Linked DNA regions of Homo sapiens: region 2 is linked to region 1. Evidence: fine-mapped expression QTL. A gene starts in region 1. The other region holds a variant in brackets. All regions are shown on one strand. Distances are from middle to middle.

Evidence for each region. PIP is the estimated chance that this variant, and not a neighbour inherited with it, causes the effect.
Region 2: its variant is fine-mapped to the expression of AFAP1L2 in pancreas (GTEx, PIP 0.99).

Annotation. Positions count from the first base shown.
Region 1 is chr10:114,401,044-114,409,947 of GRCh38, reverse strand. AFAP1L2 (actin filament associated protein 1 like 2) reads left to right here and starts at 5,446. Exons shown (of 19, transcript NM_001001936.3): 1 at 5,446-5,508. The coding sequence starts at 5,493. RefSeq lists an enhancer at 4,911-5,411 and silencers at 5,365-5,444, 6,242-6,291.
Region 2 is chr10:114,425,647-114,434,515 of GRCh38, reverse strand. It overlaps ABLIM1 (actin binding LIM protein 1), which reads left to right. Exons shown (of 23, transcript NM_002313.7): 23 at 1-3,404. Among named protein-coding and RNA genes, the nearest start is that of AFAP1L2, 26 kb to the right of the region's middle. The variant A/G (reference allele first, on the strand shown) is at 3,531.

The DNA.
Region 1 (8,904 bases):
TGAGAATTGGTTTAGGACAGTAGGTGATCCTGAAGCTCAGTTCTCTTCCTCTGGACACTTTCAGCCAACACACCCAGGGGGCCTAGAGCCCTCCTACCCCATCTGAGCTCAGCGGAAACACTCGCTACCTGGATTGCAGGGCAGCGTTACTCAGTCTGCTCTGAGGACTGTCTGCATTGGAATGGATCGTTTCTGATCCTGTGGTCCAGGGTGGGGTCAGTGGTAGCACCCCCAGAGGATTGAGCATGAGCTAGGAACCAGATCGTCTGATTCCTGAGGCCAAAAACCCAATGAATTTGAATCGGAATGTGAATGAACCCTGTGTGGACGTTGCAAAGCCACAAGGGGTTAAATTGCACCCAGGTTTTGGAGAGGAGGAGACAGTGCTGAGCTTCCAGAGGCCCAAGATTCCTATTGATGGTTTTAAGTGGTGGGGTTTTTTATTTTTTTCCCTTCAGTTTTGTTCTTGGAAAAGGCGGTGAATTCCCATTTTAAATTCACTCTGCATACATTTCTGATTGATTTTTGTTTTGTCTAGAGCCTCTGGGATTTGCCAAGTCTCCATCAATAAACTAGAGAGGATTTAGGGAAGAGGTAATTAAAGGGGCTGGGGCAAGAGAGGAAAGGGGGAGAGAGGACAGGCAAAATGGAGATATCGAGCTGTCCCCAGCCTGCAGGGAGGGTGCTGCGGTTACAGGAAGTGTTCAGGGAGATGGCTATCAAAGGGTTTGCCGGGGTGAAACTGTCCAGTTGGAGCCCTTCGAAAGCCTGAACTAAGGGCCATGGTAAAGTCCAGGAAATTGGAGTCAGGAAACTTCATTTTTGAGTCCTAGTTTTGAAAGAGATTCCTTTGAGACTTTGGGTGAGTCACCTAACTTCTTTGCTTCCTCATTTGTGAAACAGAGATAGCTCAATTTGCTCCTAGCCACCCTGGTGGGAGAGTCAACTCAAGCAAAACGGCTGCTGAGTGGGACCTTGTAACCTGGCCCTGCTGACCCCAATTGACAGCCAGGGCTGGGAACAGAGACTTGAGGCTTCCTTCAAAAGGAAGAGTTACACCATCAGATTCGCCCTGAGAATTTGAAAGGAAACCAGGACCCATTGCTAATAGTCTCTTGACACCGGTAGAATAGAGGGTGGATGCCAGGCCGGGCCATTTGCAATATGAGGAAAGGAAGGGAAGGAGAAAGAGAAGGCAAAAAGGCAAGACACCATCCGTCCTGCCCCACTTTCCAGTTCCAGCTTGCATGGAGGCCCGCGGAACGCTGTTCCCTCTCCTCTTATCCATGAGACGTCAGCATTCTTGCCACAGCCTCTGACTTTTCTATTTCTTGAGCCCTCCTGAGCAGGCCCACGTGGAACAGGGTGCTGATGTAAGGGGCTGAGCTCCAGGGCTCAGACCCAGTGTTCTAACTCCCCTGGGAGCACCATGGGCCTTTCACTTTCTCCCTTCAACTCCCCAACCTGCAGCCACTTCTGAGTGTGACTCTTTTCCTGCTCATTGTCTCCATCCCCACCCCCAAAGCAGCCCAGGAGAGCAGGACTTGTTTGCCCTGCTCATGCTCTGCAGTTCCTGGAGACACCTGGCACACAGCAGGCCCCACATCTGAGGGCTGCATGACGCTGTTCACCTAACCACTCAAATTGCTGGAAACTGCAGAGTCGGCCTCAGCTCTTCTCCTCCCTCACACTCTGCTCAGGCACAACTTCCAGAAGGTTGCTGCCATCAGTCCTCTCTTCCCCATTGGCTTTTCCACCACCCCATAGCTTCTCACCTGGGGGGTACAACTGCCTCCTGTGCTCCCCCTGCTCTCAGCCCCTGGGGGATCCCCGGGGCACCAACACTCTTCAGTGCTGTCTAATCACCTCAGCTCAGCACTCTAGGCCCTGGAACAGTGCTGCACCCACCTTTCCAGCCTCACTTGCTTCATTCCTGGCTTCTCCCTTTCTGCTACAGCAACAGAGCTGTTTGACCCTGAAAAGGCTCATCTCCCTGCCTCTGTTCCCACTGTCCTTTCTGCCTGGAAAGCTGCACTCACTGTACCTTTCCTGTCACCTCACTAACTCGAACTCATCCCACTCAGCCAGCTCGTCGCACTCTTCAAATTCATGGAACTCAGTGCAGCCGTTGCTGCTTCAGTGTCCTCTTGTGTGTTCCCAGAATCCCTCGTGTTTCTGTCTTATCAGAGCATCTACCTCACTGTGCTGTGTTGTTCACTGGTCTGTGTGCCCCATGAGATGGTAACAAACAGCCTGGCACTTCCTATGAGTGCCAAGAAGTTTTGTGAATATTTGGGGCTGGCAGAGTGACTCACACATATAATCCAAGCGCTATGGGAGGCCGAGGTGGAAGGATCACTTGAGCCTAGGAGTTGGAGGCCCCATCTTTATAAATAATAAATTAACAACAACAACAACAAAACTAGGCGAGTGTCATGGTATGTGCCTGTAGTCCTAGCTACCTGGGAGGCTGAGGCGGGAGGATTACTGAAGCCCAGGAGGTTTTTTTTTATTGTTGTTGGTTTGTTTGTAAACATTTTATTTCATTTTAATTTTTGATTTTATTTATTTATTTATTTTTGAGACAGGCTTGCTCTGTTGCTCAGGCTAGAGTGCAGTGGTGTGATCTCAGCTCACTGTAACCTCCAGTTCCTGGGTTCAAGCAATTCTCATGCCTCAGCCTCCCAGGTAGCTGGGATTACAGGTGTGCACCACCATGCCCGGCTAATTTTTGTATTTTTAGTAGAGACTGGGTTTCACCACGTTGGCCAGGCTGTCCCGAACTCCTGACCTCAGGTGATCTGCCCGCCTCGGCCTCCCAAAGTGCTGGGAAATACAGGCATGAGCCACCACGCCTGGCCTAAATATTTTATTTCATTTAACACAATACATTCCAGTTTTACCTTAAATATATTTTTAAAAATATTTAATTTTCTGATTATTCTTCTTTTTCTTTTTAAACTTTTATTTTAGATTCAGGGCAAATGTGCAAATTGTTATATAGGTAAATTGTGTGTCATAGGGGTTTGGTGTGGAGATTATTTAATCACACAGGTAGTAAGCATAGTGCTCAATAGGTAATTTTTCAATCCCTACTCTCCTCTCACCCTCCACCCTCAAGTAGGCTGTGGTGTCTGTTGTTCCCTTTTGTGTGTCCATGTGTACTCAGTATTTAGATCCCACTTAAAAGTGAGAACATGTGGTATTTGGTTATCCGTTCTTGCATTAGTTTGCTTATGAAAATGACCCCCAGCTCCATTCTTCCTTGCTGCAAAGGACATGGTCTTGTTCTTTTTTATGGCTGCATAGTATTCCATGGTATATATGCACCATATTTTGTTTATCCAGTCTACTGTTGATGACCATTTAGGTTGATTCCATATCTCTGCTATTATGAGTAGTGCTGCAATAAACATACATGTGCATATGTCTTTATGGTAGAACCATTTATATTCCTTTGGGTATATATCCAATAATGGGATTTCTGGGTTGAATGGTAGTTCTGTTTTAAGTTCTTTAAGAAATCACCAAACTACTTTTCACAATAGTTGAACTAATTTACATTTCCACCAGCAGTGTATAAGCATTCCATTTTCTCTGCAACCTCACCAGCATCTGTTATTTTTTGACTTTTTAATAATAGCCATTCTGACGGTATGGTATCTCATTGCAGTTTTGATTTGCATTTCTGTAATGATCAGTGTGAAGCCCACGAGTTTGAGGCTGCAGTGAACCAAGATTGTGCCACTGCACTCCAACCTAGGCAACAAACCAAGACCTTGTCTCTAAAAAAATAAAAATTAAAATACACATTTGGAAGCAGACAGATCCGAGTTTAACGCCTGCTCCGCTCTTTTCTAGCTGTGTGACTTTGAGCAAATTGCTTAACCTCTTTTCTTTTTTTTGAGACGTAGTCTCACACTGTCACCCAGGCTGGAGTGCAGTGCGCAATCTCAGCTCACTGCAACCTCCATCTCCCAAGTTCAAACGATTCTCCTGCCTCAGCCTCCCAAGTAGCTGAGTTTACAGGCCCCTGCCACCAAGCCCAGCTATTTTTTTTTTTTTTTAGTAGAGATGGAGTTTCACCATGTTGGCCAGGCTCGTCTCGAACTCCTGACTTCGTGATCCGCCCGCCTCAGCCTCCCAAAGTGCTGAGATTACAGGCGTGAGCCACCGCGCCCAGCCGTAGCTTCTTCACCTCTATGAAAGAGATCATAATAATACCCATGTCACAGGGATATCGGGGAAACTAAAGGCAGTGATGTACAGCCCTTAGCGCCGTGCCTGGCTTGTGGGGAGGGCTCCATCCACATTAGGTGCTAGTATAACTAAGAAAAATATTTCTACATGCTGTTGGGAGGGGTTGGGGGAGGTCTCCAAACATCACAACTAAATCTGCGATTCCAAGGAAGAATTAAGAAGTCTTTTAGAAAACCACCACTGCCAAATCTTCCTTAATTGTTCCTTCAAGGAAGCTGGGGAACTTAGGTAACCAACCAGGCACCCAGCACAAACCGTGACTGAGATTTTAAAGTGAAAACTGAAAAAGTTTAAAAGAACACATAGATCTCTGGGGGGAGCACGGAGAAGACTAGGTCGCATTAAGGGCCTGGAAGGACCGGTGGCAAAAGGCAAAGGATGGAAGTGTGGCACTTCTGGATGGAGGCAGTGCAGGGTGGAGATTCAGAGCCATGGCCGAGCTTCCTTATGGAACCGGCGCCACCCCTCCAAGGCGGTCAGGTTTACTGGGCGCCCCGGAAACGGCACTCCCTGACTTGTGGCGTTGGCCCTGGAAATTCAGGTAGAAAGCAGCAAGCAGATGTTTTCACACACCCTGAAGTGTGCGCGATTGGCAGCGGCTGCCCAGAGAGGTTCCAAGAGAGTGGGAGCAATCCCCAAAGAACCCGGAGCAGGTTTGGTTGCCCGCCCCGCTGCCCTCCTCGCCCCTCCAGGAAGGCCTAGGGCAAAAGCGCGCTGGCTCGGGAGCCAAGCGCGAGGAGCTCTAAGCCAGTCTCAACCTCCTAGCTTGGACCTCGGTCTCCTCCTCCAGGCATTGGGTTTGCAGCGGGCAGGGGTGTGGGAACAATCTTGGAGGCCCACCCAAGCCCGGCCTCCCGGAGCCTCCCCCAGAGTTTGGGAACGTCCCAGTCTCGTTCCCTCTCGACGCCCCCGGAGTCAAGACGTGAAGGGAGTGCCAAGGCGGCCGGGGGCGGCGAGCGGGGCCGCGGGCGCGCACCGACTCAAGAGCCGACTGTCAGCCTCGGCGGGCCGGAGTTCTCCGGCGCTGGGACAGGGGCGCTGGGACAGGGGCGCTGGGGGCGAGCCCTGGCGGGGGCCAGGTCCGAGGACCCTGGGCGCGGCGGCCCCGCCAGGAGGTCCGGCCGCGAGCGTGACCTCACGGGGAGGGGCCAGCGCGGCGGCCTGGGCGCTGAGCCGAGCGCCGGGAGAGCAGCGCAGAAGCCGAGCCGCGAGGAGCGCACTCCGTGGCCCCGATGGAGCGGTACAAAGGTGAGGGCGCGGGTTCCTCGCGCGGCGCACACCCACTCCCTTTCGCCCAGCGACGCGGAGGGCAGGGCTAGGACTCGTCTTGCCAGGACTCGGGATAAGCAGAGCCCACTGCCCCCACCCAGCCCGGACCTGGGCCTAAGAGGGGGCGACAGCGGCGCCGCGGACTGGGCGGGTGGGCTCCTAGGTGGCTGCTGCGGCCCGAGCCCTTTGATCCTCCCGGGCGCGGAAGGAGGGGGTCGTCAGTGGGGGGCGTGGCGGGGCTTCTCACCTGTTGCAGGAGAGAGGGTGAGCCCGGCACCCCACTCCACCCTCAGTCCCGCCGCACAGGAAAGATGCCTGGGGCCGAGGAAGCCCCGAAGAAGGTGGGAACCGTGCTGAGCTGCTGGGGGCAAAGGGTCGGGCTGTTGAGTCCTTTCTCCCGGGCGCCCGCCGGGCTAGGGGCTTCCTGCTCCCGGCAAAGCGCTTGGGCAGTGGAGTGGGCGCGCAGACCCTCCCCGGGCTAGGTGGGGCCTCCCCAAACGTCCTGCCGTTCGGGTCATCGTTTCTCTCCAAGCCCTTCTTTGCTCCCCCACACCAAGAAAGGAGGGATGCGAGGGTCGGGGGCCGAATGGAGTGCCCGGCAGGTGGAGCTCCTGGAGGCGTCCGGACCCGAGGGCTTAGCTCAGTGCGCAGCTGGGCGAGCTTTGGGTTTGGCGGGGGCCAGGATCTCCGCCAAACCCCGGTGGGCGGGCCGTCCCGGGTGCGCCGGACGCCCAGCTTAGCACCCACACTCGGAGCCTCGGAGCTGGTCTACAAGTCTCGATTGCGGTTCTTTTGAAAAGGGAGTACAGGGAGTTGCCCCTTAAGAGGAACCCTGCGGGCGCTCCCCCCTCCCCCATCCTCCTGCAGACCCCTTCCCTTTGGAAAAGCCTCTTGCCTTCTCTTTTGCTGGACCGGTCTCCGCCAAACCTGCGGGAGGAAATGCTGCTTCTATATTTGTTTTCCCCTGGGAGAGAGTAATAAAAAGAGAACGCTCAGATTCCCAGGAATCTCACTCCCGGAGGGCTCTGATCCCTGAAACTGACATAAAGGGACCTGTTGGGACCGGCTTCCCTAAAGTAGTCTTGTCTTTCACTTTCCCATTGCTTTTTCTCATCTGGGTAGCCTGGTTACTGGTGAAGGCAAAAGATCCAAGTCCCAGACAGAGCTTCATATATTCAGGAAGGGTCTTTGCCGACAGCAGGGAGCCGGCGTGGGGGACAGGGTTAAAGGAGTTGGCCACCTTTGATTTCTTTCTGTGAACCCTCCCTGGAGCTTCTCTCGCATTTCTAACCCGGTGGTTTTCTTCTTCTCAAATTCTACTGGGATCACGTCAGTTTTGTGCTTGAATGACTGAATGCGCGCTTATGCTGTCTCAGACACTTGAGGAAGCCACAGTCCTGCTCCTTGTAACATGGCCGTTTGCACTCCCTCCCCTACTGGGGCCCCTCCGCCCTTCGGGAGGGACCCTCTCTGGGAATTCAGGCCTTGAGTTGAGCCTGACAGGAAGTGTTGGCCTCTGGGGTGCCTTCCAGCTCCCTGACTTGCAAAGCTGGGGTGTGTGTATGGGGGTGGGGGTGGTGTTAGTTGTAGGTTGCAAGCTACTTTCTCAAATCAGCATATTAATCTCTCTAAATCAGGGCAAATCACATTTGGGGTCTTTCAAAATGTCCCGTTATTCTCAGAAGGCTTTTGTATTAATAACTTTTGACTTGGCCCTTGACCTGATAAAAGTCTTCTTAGTTATCTTTCTCTCTCAGGAGCTTAAAATCCTCCCACCCTCGAAGAGGATCAGTTTTTGCCAACTGAAGGGAACTTCGTTTCCAGGTCAGGGTGCTTATGTTTTTGGTAACACATGTATCTGCCTGATCATTTTGCAGTAAACCAGACACAGAGTGATAAGTGGGTAAACCTGAGAATTATCTAGGTTTCAGAGGCTAATCCAACTCAAATTCCAGTGTTTGACTCATGAGAAAAATCTTTATTTTGTCTCGCTGGTGTCATGCTGCTAATAGGTTTACTACACCTTTCACTGAGGAATTTGGGGATCCCCTAGCCCCAGGATATAGAATTCCCCATTCTCCTGAGAGGCAGATAAGTTGTGCTTTGAACACCCTTTAAATGGAAAAGTTCCTCTATGCAAAATGCAAAATGAAGCCCATCTCTGATTAACCAGTGTGACTGACTAGAATCGGTAGTCTCTTCTTGCTTTTCAGAGACTGGGGCCATCTTCTTAAAGTTGAGATTGAATAGTTATTGGAATAACTAGGAATAGTGGTTTAAACAACAAAGTTAAACGGAAAAAGCAGGTTTATTTAGTTGGGCTCCTGGAGCCTAAGTAAAAACTGTAAAGAAAAATTCTTATTGTGTGTGACACTTTTTAAATGTGTTATTTAAATGCCTCTTCATTCTGTTTCTGTACTTCCAATTTTGAGCTCTCCCTCTCTCAGGTAGGTGGAAATGCCTCATGGCTGTCTTCAGAGTCTCAAAATGTTTTCTCTAATTTGCAAATCTTATAAAGCAGTTCATGTAGGAGAAATTGTCTTTCCATGTTCCTTAGCCTGCTTGTTATATATATTGTACATCCTCCAAAAATAGCCTATCATTTTTGGGCTCTGAGTGGATTTTCCATTGTCTTGTAGGATGTAAAGTGAGGTCTGGAGATGATGGGTGGTTGGAATATCACCCATGTGACATGCCTGTTGCAGAGACACTTCCAGACTTTCTTCCCAGTCCCTTCCAAGATTTCTGCTAGATAGCCATGACTCACCCAAGCAAAAATAAGGGATCGGGGAGTATGTGGGAGTCCCTTCCTAGAGAGATGGCACTTTTATGAGAGTTGCCATAAATAGCGATGGTAAAATGGCTATGTCTTGTATGTGAATCTCTTTGGCGTTGTATAAGCAGTAAGGCTCTCGCAAATGTCAGGATGTGGGGCCAAATCCTACAGGGTGCTTTGAGAAGGTTCCCATCCTTATGTGTTTACATATTTATGACTCTCATAAGAGCATCCTTTTATCGCTGTGCATGAGCCCATTGGCTGAACTCACCCAGTGTGGTCACGCATTCTGGTTCTGACTGCTCTCCCAGCTGGTGAGTGGGTCTGGGCCAAATGTGACTGACCTACTATCTGTGGATTGTGCTTGGAACATCCATGCCGAAGCTTCCTGAAATTGCATCATACTTGGATACAGATGGGCCTGGTTGAGATATTCAGCTTCAATTTAGATCACAGTAATTGGTTGAAAGTGTTATTATTCTTTTTCTGCGGTTCTTTTGTTTCTGAATTTGATCATCCAGTCCCCCCGCTTAGCTCTAGGGCATTGGAGGCAGATATGAACTGCAAAGAGTCAATCCAGTAAAATACTACTTCAAAGT
Region 2 (8,869 bases), 25 kb before region 1:
AGTGGTAAAAAAGCAAGTAGAATAGTTTCTGAGTCTGTGTTGCAGCCTCTGACACGTGGCTCACCGCTGTCATTTGGGGGATGGAATGAACAGTCACTGTTCTATAGCATCCTCCTGTGCTCTTACCTAAGGAATCTAAATTGTCCTAGCCTTCCATTGCTATGCACTGAATGAGGACTACTCTCGTGTGTGTGTGTGTGTGTGTGTGTGTGTGTGTGTGTGTGTGTGTGTGTGTTGGATCTACTAACATGTTTAGCAAATGGCTCTGACAGGGTGGCCATGAGCAGATGAGACCAGCTCTTGCTTGGTTGGAAGCCACACTGCAGTTTGCAGTTTAGCCTTTGGTGTCTCAGTGGCTTCTTGCTTATTCCATGCTTTTTCTATCCCATCCTCTCTCTGTGCCCTCCTGCAATGGCAGCCTTGGCACAATGCCTGGGTGTCCTCATCCTTGCTTTACTCTGGAAAGTGTGGGGATGGAGAGGATGGTGCATTTCCAGTGCTTCCTTACCTGTCAATAACAATGGTGGCCACCTGGGTCCCAGCACTTGGCTGGTGGAGAGATTTTTTTCATTATGGAGCTAATAAAGGGTCCCTACGTTTTACATTGATTAATGAATTATCACCCAGACATGTGCAGATGAAATGTCAATATAAGAAAAATCAAGGTATTTGGGAAACATGGGCATAATCAGGTAGTTTTGCTAAAATTCCTCTTCCTTGGTCTACATAAAGAAGACATGGGTCTGTCATAGAATGGGGACATTAGACTGAAAACTGGGACAACCCCCTTCCTTATTTTATAGAGACTAGGAGTTAAGGGGCCTGCCTAAGATTGCAGTGATAAAGAACTGAACCCTAAATCAGCTCCCACTAATGAAACCCTGCTTTCCTTGTATCTTTTAAACTCAGTTCTGCATCCAACTTGAGAAGAAAAAAAGCTTCTTTCCATATCAAGTACCATATGAGTTCATTTAAACTGCACCTTGCAGAAATGCATTGCCAGAAAGCACCAGTAGCCTCCTATCTGCAAGCAGAGTAGTGCTCTGCTCTGGGGAGGGGTCATTGGAAACCATAATGCAGAGTGGGCCCCCTACTCCATTTCCCAGCAAAAGGCTCCAGCTGGAGGGATGGGTTGTGGGGCAACCTGGTTCCTGCTAACTGCCAGATTGAATGTGTGGGCTAGAATGCCTGCACATTTAGTTAAACTGGGCTCAGCATGCTTGTCCTCAAAATGTCCATCCTGGTCACAGCACACAAGATGGCTATTGGTCTGCTTTTACCCTACCCTGTACTATACATGAAAATTCCAGTTATTAACACACTCAAACTGGTGGAGCTTGTTCACCCTAGGAAGGGGATTGTATATATGGCAGGCTTCCCTGGTGCCGATGTAAAGGGCTACATTTGGGAACATTTGACTTCCTTGGGACTCTTAAGTGCATAATGATGGCATGAAGTAAAAGGGGCCTCAATGATGATAGGAAAATCAGTTCTTTTAAAATTTCTTCAAGAAAATCCAGGCTATCACATAGTCTTTCTGTGTGACTTATTAGGAGATAGGAAGAGCATTGGGAAACTTGCACAGCTAGCTATGCATCTACATTTTGGTTTGGGGTTAGTTATGAAATGTTCTTAATATGACGTGTTCAATAACTTCACATAAACTTCCTGTTCTCCAAAACCTCAAAGAGATAGAGTTAATGAGTTGTTGTTTTTTTTTAAATGGGGGTAGTTTTCTATCTGTCATGGGCTCTAGCATCTACTCCGCTACCCAATTCTGTCATCTCCAAGCTGAGTTTCCTCTTCTGAGGCAGAGGCTGGAGCAGTTCTTTTTCAGTTCTCATCCTCTCCATCCCAATCCAGTATATCAATCAACTCTAACTCGGAGACGTCTAGCTGGCAATGTTTCTAAAACTTTCACTGGATTTCTTTAGACATTGAAGCAAACATTTTTTTCTAAGAATTGCTTCTCAGATGATGATATCAAATGTATATGCTTTTGCAAGTTTGAAAAGTTCAAATTAACCACTTTTGACTAGGTAAGTCTTTCTAAAAACCATTTAAAGCTAACTGGGTCTTAGCATCCTCCTGTGTATGGAAGAGACAGGTGACCGCTCCAGGTTGGGTGCTCACAGAACCCTTTTCCTGACTCTCATGGAAGATGGTGGAAGGAAAATAGACTGTCTCATCAACCCTCCTGTGTCCTCTGAAGCAATCTCAGTTTTTATTAACCACCTCTTCTGTGTTTCTGGTAGCTATTTAACCTGTATTTAATCTGTACTTCCTATGCCAGCCTCAATTTTATTTGATTTTTACAATTATTCTCTTCTAACCAATGAAGTGTTTGTCAGTATGCCCCAAAGCTTGCTCTTTTGTGCTCCCTTTTGAATAACTTTCTATCCAGAAAAAGAGATTATTTGGGACTTGAGATTTGCAGTGATACCAACTTATAGCAATGATGTACTTTAAGGGAACTACCCAACTATGTTGTGATAGAAGAAAGAGAAACCTTCACTTTGGCATTTTTTTTTAATCACTGTTTATTTTTCTGTTTGCGGCCCAGGAAGCAGTGGGAGGTGGTGGCAGATATGCTTTGCATATGGATTGTTATGTTTTTATTTGGGCAAGTTTAATCATGGAAAACTCAAAAAGAAGGGGGGAAATGGTCAGTTTAAGCCAAAAGAAACTTTCTAAACAATGTATAGGTACACAGCAAAATTAAACAAATCCAACAATTTCTGAAGCTTAGTGTAATTGAGTGGTGGTTGTTATTCAATAAAATTATTCCCAAAAGTGTTTCTCCTAAGAGTGCAGTTCCCATGAGTCACTTCCTGAACCCATTGACCAAAGGTGGACAGAGACAATCCTGTAGACCTTGACATTCAGAAAGATGTGAGCTGCTTACTGATCATATATGCATACGTTTCTTTACAGCAGAGGAAACCATTGTCCACAAAACTGATGTTCTTTTGGGGTTTTATGTACAGACTTGTCCAATCATGTGTGTGGTTCCTGCGAGTTGCTGATGACTCCGCATTGAAGCTCTCTGAGTTCTTTGATTTTAAGTTGGGTTTATGGAATTTTTTCAAATGTTGGAAGGTGTGTGGTTCTTCCTGCCCTCCCTCCCCTTTTGGAAATATGAAAGCAAATGTTTAGAAGAATTCCTTTTGAAAAGCTGTGTCGTGTTCCCTGTGAAACTGAGCAGGTGTGTGTTGGCGCGCTAAGTGCCACATGCTTGTGTGTAGAGGAGGAGGTGGCCCTGCCGGCTCCGCGCTGCTGTGCCTGTGATCCCTACCTGCTCCCCGCTCCTGTTGCCAGCAGCACTCACTGCACTCCTTTGTCATATACTCTGCATCACTGTCATACTCACAACTTCGTGAATAAAGTTGTGTGCTTTATTCGTAGATGCCTCCATACCTGTGTTTCATTTCTCGTTCCCTGGCTCCCTTTGAAGGTCTATCTCATTTTAAAAAGCACCAACGCAACTTCCAATAATCAAAACAAAATCAGAATGAACCCAAGGCTGTGGG[A/G]ATACATTTTTATCATGCAGGTGGAAAAATGCAGCAAATAACAGCAGGATATTCCAGGACTGTGTGTCCAATAACCCAGACCATATTGACCAAGCTGTCCAAAGGAAAGAAATGTTTAGTAGAGCCATTACACTGTGCTGTGTCATAGGTGTTTGATTTGGTTTGTGACACAGCAGGGATAGTCCCATCATTTCGACAAAGCTGGGGATTTGAGGAGGTTTGAAGCTTCTGAGCCACTATGAGTGTGGGCCACTTTTTAGTAAGAAGCTAGAATGCAGTAGGAGAAAAGCATCCTTCCAATTTTGGGCATCCCCTGCATGATCAAACTTTACATGAAGAAATTGTAGATGTTAACTTCCTTGTTATCATCACTGCCAAGATTTTAGGCTTGCCAGAAAGTACAAGGATCTATGTCCAAGATGGCCCACTCCAACGATAGCCTTCCTTCTGCTCTGTGTCTGCTGAGACTACCCAAGACCCAGTCACACTGGCATTCACATGACCCTCCCCTGGAAGCGGGATGCAGGTTGTTTTCAAGACAGTTGGCATCTTTAGTTCACCACCATGGAAAACAGGCCGGGAGACCTCAGCTCAAGGTCTGTGTTCTGCTCATCTCTGCCTCCACCCGTGGGAAAGCATCCCTGCTGTGGTCCATAATTACCATAGCTAGGGGTCATCTCCAGTCCTTATGAACTCTCTGTGGGATTTGGCTCTGGTGGCCACCTCTCCAATGGAAGTTGACCCGTGCCTCACTTCAGTTGCTAGACTTTAGTCAGCGAATCTCACACTGCCTTTGCTGGGAGTGGAAGGATCTCGCCTCACCCACTGCTCAGCTGCCTCTCCCCCAGTACCCTGCCTTCAGATCTTGCCAAACCACTGCAAGTTCCCAGGACATACCATGCTTGCTCCCTCCCAGGCAGCTTTATCAAAGGTATTTCTTCTTTACGATGCTCAACTCTTCAAGGAGGTGGTGGAGCAGAGAGGACCTGGCCCCAGGGAAAGGAAGTAATGATCAATGTTGACTCTTTAAAAACAGCTACCCATCAGCTCTTTGGAGTTACCCATGTGAATTTCCCATGGGCTCCATTTGTTCCAAATTAAAGACAAGTCCAAGTTCACACCCTCTCTATGAGCCTGTCTTAATGGGCCCAGCCCAATCTGCATGTAATTCTTTGCATGCCTCTAGTTGAACCTCAAGGTCGGTACTTAGCAAGTGTTGCCTCGAACTGCTAGCTGCGTGGGTTTCTGCTCTTCAGTTGAACTGTAGTGAGATCTCTGTGCTGAGCGCCAGGCACCCTAGCTTGGCATAACTATATTGCTCGTGAGAGCCTTTCAAAGTAGACAATTGTAGCTCCACTATACAGGTAGGAAACCAAAGCTCAGAGTCTAATCAAACATGCCCAATCACTCAGCCAGTGAGCAGCAGAGCTAGAATTCTCCAGGTCTGCCCTTTTCAGATCCCATGCTGTTATCCTCCACATCCCATTCCCTGTGACTTTCTTAGGGCAAGGACTGTGTCCCACATTCTGAATCTCCCAGGGCACACTGCACAGAATGGGTTCTTAGTGTGAGACCGGCCAGCGCCCTTCAGTGTGGCCATGAGCCCCAACACTACCACCAAGGCGCATTTATGAACAGTTTGGGGGTTACTCACTGTCTGTGTGTCTTGGAGCCCGTTTAGCCTCTCTTCAGCCTCAATTTGTTCATCTGCAGAATGGACAAGATAATAATATCCATCAAAAGACTGTTGCCAAATTATAGCACGTGAGCACTTAGGTGGTTGAATAAGGACTAGTATTATTTTAAATAATCATTTGAGAATGAATTAGTTTTCACTCTGGGCTTTTTACCCCTCCCTCTAGTCATTTTGTTTGTGTTCACAGGGCCTTCCTCATGGATTCTCCTTCTAGTCTTTATATAAATACTCCAGGATTAAAATAATCCCACGACCTCTTTTACATACTTCAACAACAGCACTCTCTCCACCCAAGCATAGTCTAAGATAGAGATCCCCTGAAGATGTGCTAATTAGTAGTAATAATAACCAGAAGTATTACTCAGCAGCCGAGTGCAGGGTATAGCATCAGGCTGCCTGGGTTCGAGTTTCAGCTCCACCAATAGCTATCTGTATAACTAACAAATTGTTTAACTTCTCTAAGCCTCAATTTCCATGTCCATAAAAGAGGAATAATAATGATACCTACCACAAAAGGTTATTATGAGAATTCCTGCAGGACAAGAGCCTGCATGATACTAAACGAGCACTTAAAATGGCTTTTATTCAGGCCCGGCGCGGTGGCTCATGCCTGTAATCCTAGCACTTTGGGAGGCTGAGGCGGGCGGATCACAAGGTCAGGAGATCGAGACCATCCTGGCTAACATGGTGAAAACCTGTCTCTACTCAAAATACAAAAAATTAGCCAGGTGTGGTGGCGGGCGCCTGTAGTCCCAGCTACTCAGGCAGGAGAATTGCGTGAACCCGGGAGGCGGAGCTTGCAGTGAGCTGAGATCACACCACTGCACCCCAGCCTGGTGACAGAGCAAGACTCCGTCTCAAAAAAAAAAAAAAAAAAAAAGGATTTTATTCATGAAGTAGCTGCCATGTAATAAGTACTGTTTGCCCAGCCCCGAACTAAACAATTTCTGTGGTTTCTTTCATATACTTCCTTAGGTTCCTTCCATTTTAGTTAAGGAAACAGACCCAGAGAGACTGTCTCTGAGTAGTGGGGCTGAGTAGGCTGAGGTGGGTGGATCATCACGAGGTCAGGAAATCGCTACCATCCTGGCTAACATGGTGAAACCCCGACTCTACTCAAAATACAAAAAATTAGCCAGGTGTGGTGATGGGCGACTGTAGTCCCAGCTACTCGGGAGGCTGAGGCAGTCCTAAACACTGCCTATGGGCAAGTGTCATGCCGAGAGGGGCACAGGTGCCCCCAAAGCACTGTGGCCACCCAGCATGGCAGACTCCTCAAACTGGAAGCGTTCAGAGGTGCCAGGTTGGGACTCAGCTGCTCCAGAGGGTTTTCCTGGGTTGGGAGGATTGTCCTAGCCTACTCCGGCGGTGCTTAGAAACACTCCCTGTGGAAGAGCTGAGACTCATTCTCATGAAAGATGGTGTTTGTTCCAGAAAGATCTTTTCAATGGTATGACTCACTTCAAAGCAACCAAAGGCTGTAAAAGTTGAGCTGCTGGTCCTGAGAGTATTGAGGGAGAAAGCCACCAATCCTCCCCAGCCCCTCTTGCCCGTTGCTGGAAGAAGGCTACTCTTCCCCACAGGTCATTGCCAGGGTGTGTCTGTCAGGCCCACCCTGCTGGAGGTGGCCCACTGTGGGCCGGAAAGCACTGGGAAGGGCGGGGACTTGGAGCTGTCAGCGTTTGAGAAAGCCAGGGTGGTTGGGAGAATAGCACCCAAAACTTCAGGGAATCTCGACCCCAGCCCTAAGAACTCACTTCCGCACCTTCTTCCCCACAGGAGACCAGGACTCTGAACAAACACTTCCCTTCTACTCTGGCAGAGCTCAGGGATAGGCTGTAGCGAGTCGGGTCTGCAGAAGAGGGGGTAATAGGACCACATTTATTTTACTTTCCAATCTCCACTGGATAAAACTTGCTCTCCAGGGCCTGCTATTGTGCTGAGCACAATCACAGCTCCTGGAGAGGTTTTTCTGTATTTATTTGTGCTGTCCCCTGCTGCTCACTCTTAACTCAGCCCTTCCCATCAGATAAAAAGAAAAAAGTTGGCTTAGGAAACCTCCCCTTCAGAGCAGAGGCTGTTCCTGCTTTGCCCCTAGCATATGTTAGCCATAGGCCCTCCCAGAGTATCCCGAAGGGGCTGGAGGCAGGGCAGAGCCTCAGGGGTTTCTAGCCCCAGATCTAGCCGGGTTGAGACCCCCAGGTGTCTGAGTCCAGGCACTAAGAAGAGAGGGGTCTGATGGCAGCAGCAGCGAACATTCTTTGCAGGCCTCCAAGTGCCAGGTGCTGGGCTAAATACTCTACGTAGATTATTTTGTTTAATCTGAGAAGGGCAAACCCAAGGCTGGGCGAGCTCCACTGACAAGTGGGTAGGATTCTAGCCCCCTCCCATCAAGTCCAAATGCCACCTTCCTCCTAAGGCAATTACAGCTCTCTGGGGTCTCCACAAGGCCTTCTAAGGATGTCAAAAGGATTGCCTACAAAGACAAATACCAGGCTTTCTCAGCAAGGTGGAGCCTGGCCATGAATAACATTTTGTTCTAAGCTGGACGGATGCTGGCACAGAAAGAATAGGTTCTTTCGTTCCTGCTATTGTCTTAAAACATATGCTTCTTAATGAAAAGTTAGAAAATGTTGATGCCAGTTACATTCCCATCAGATAAGAGCAAGGGTCAGCTGGCTTCTCCTGTTGAAAAAAACAATTATTACGCCCCTCCTTTACATAAAAACAAGGTGCTTCATACAACTCAAGAGTAAATTGCTCGGATTTATTAACCATTTTTTCAATCAAATGGCTTCCACTTGCACAGACGTGATCTATGATCCTCACGAGCCACCTGGGTGAATGTTGCTCCCTTCGATACACAGATGAGAGCCTGCCTGGCTTGTCCAAGCTCAAAGGGAGACTTGGGGAAGGAGCTAAGATCTGGACCCAAGTCTAACCCCAAAGCTCAGGCTTCAGTCCACAAAGAGGCTTTGATTGGGTAGATCTGGGTTAGGAGCTGGGAAGTTGAATCTTACAACAAAATATAAAAGCCTCCAGATAATTCTGATGATCAACCAAGTTTGGGAACCCTTCCCCACATCCCAGGATCTCAGGTCAGTGGCAGAGCTGGTCTGTGATGAACCAAGCATCCCTTGCCAGGATTTGTTATCACTGTCGCCCTAATTCACAAGACCACAGTCAGACAAGGCCTGGGAAACCTGCCCTCGCTGAGACCTCCATGGGAAATCACCCACATCTTCCTTCAGCTCGGCAAGGCTCGGAATGCCCCCGGGACATCCCACTGCAGTCTGCTCAAGTGTCACCTTATTTGCAAGGAGATTATCTCTTGTAAAATACAAAAGTATGAGATGAGAGAATCAGTTAGGTGCACAGTTGCTTAAAGGAAAAGCAATCCACCAGTATCCTATTCTCCCTTTCTCCCCTCACAATCTTGAGAAACCTCTGAACATTGAAAAAAATGGCCTAGAAATGTTATTATTGTACCAACTTATTTCCTTTTCAATGTACTCTCGTTCTCTTCGTTCTATTGTTAGGAGGGTGAGTATAATAAATGCTGGTCTTAAGTTTTCTGTGGAGACAGTCACTTCAGGGAAACTTAGTGACTGTCCTCAGGGCCTGGCTGGAGGGAGATTAAGAG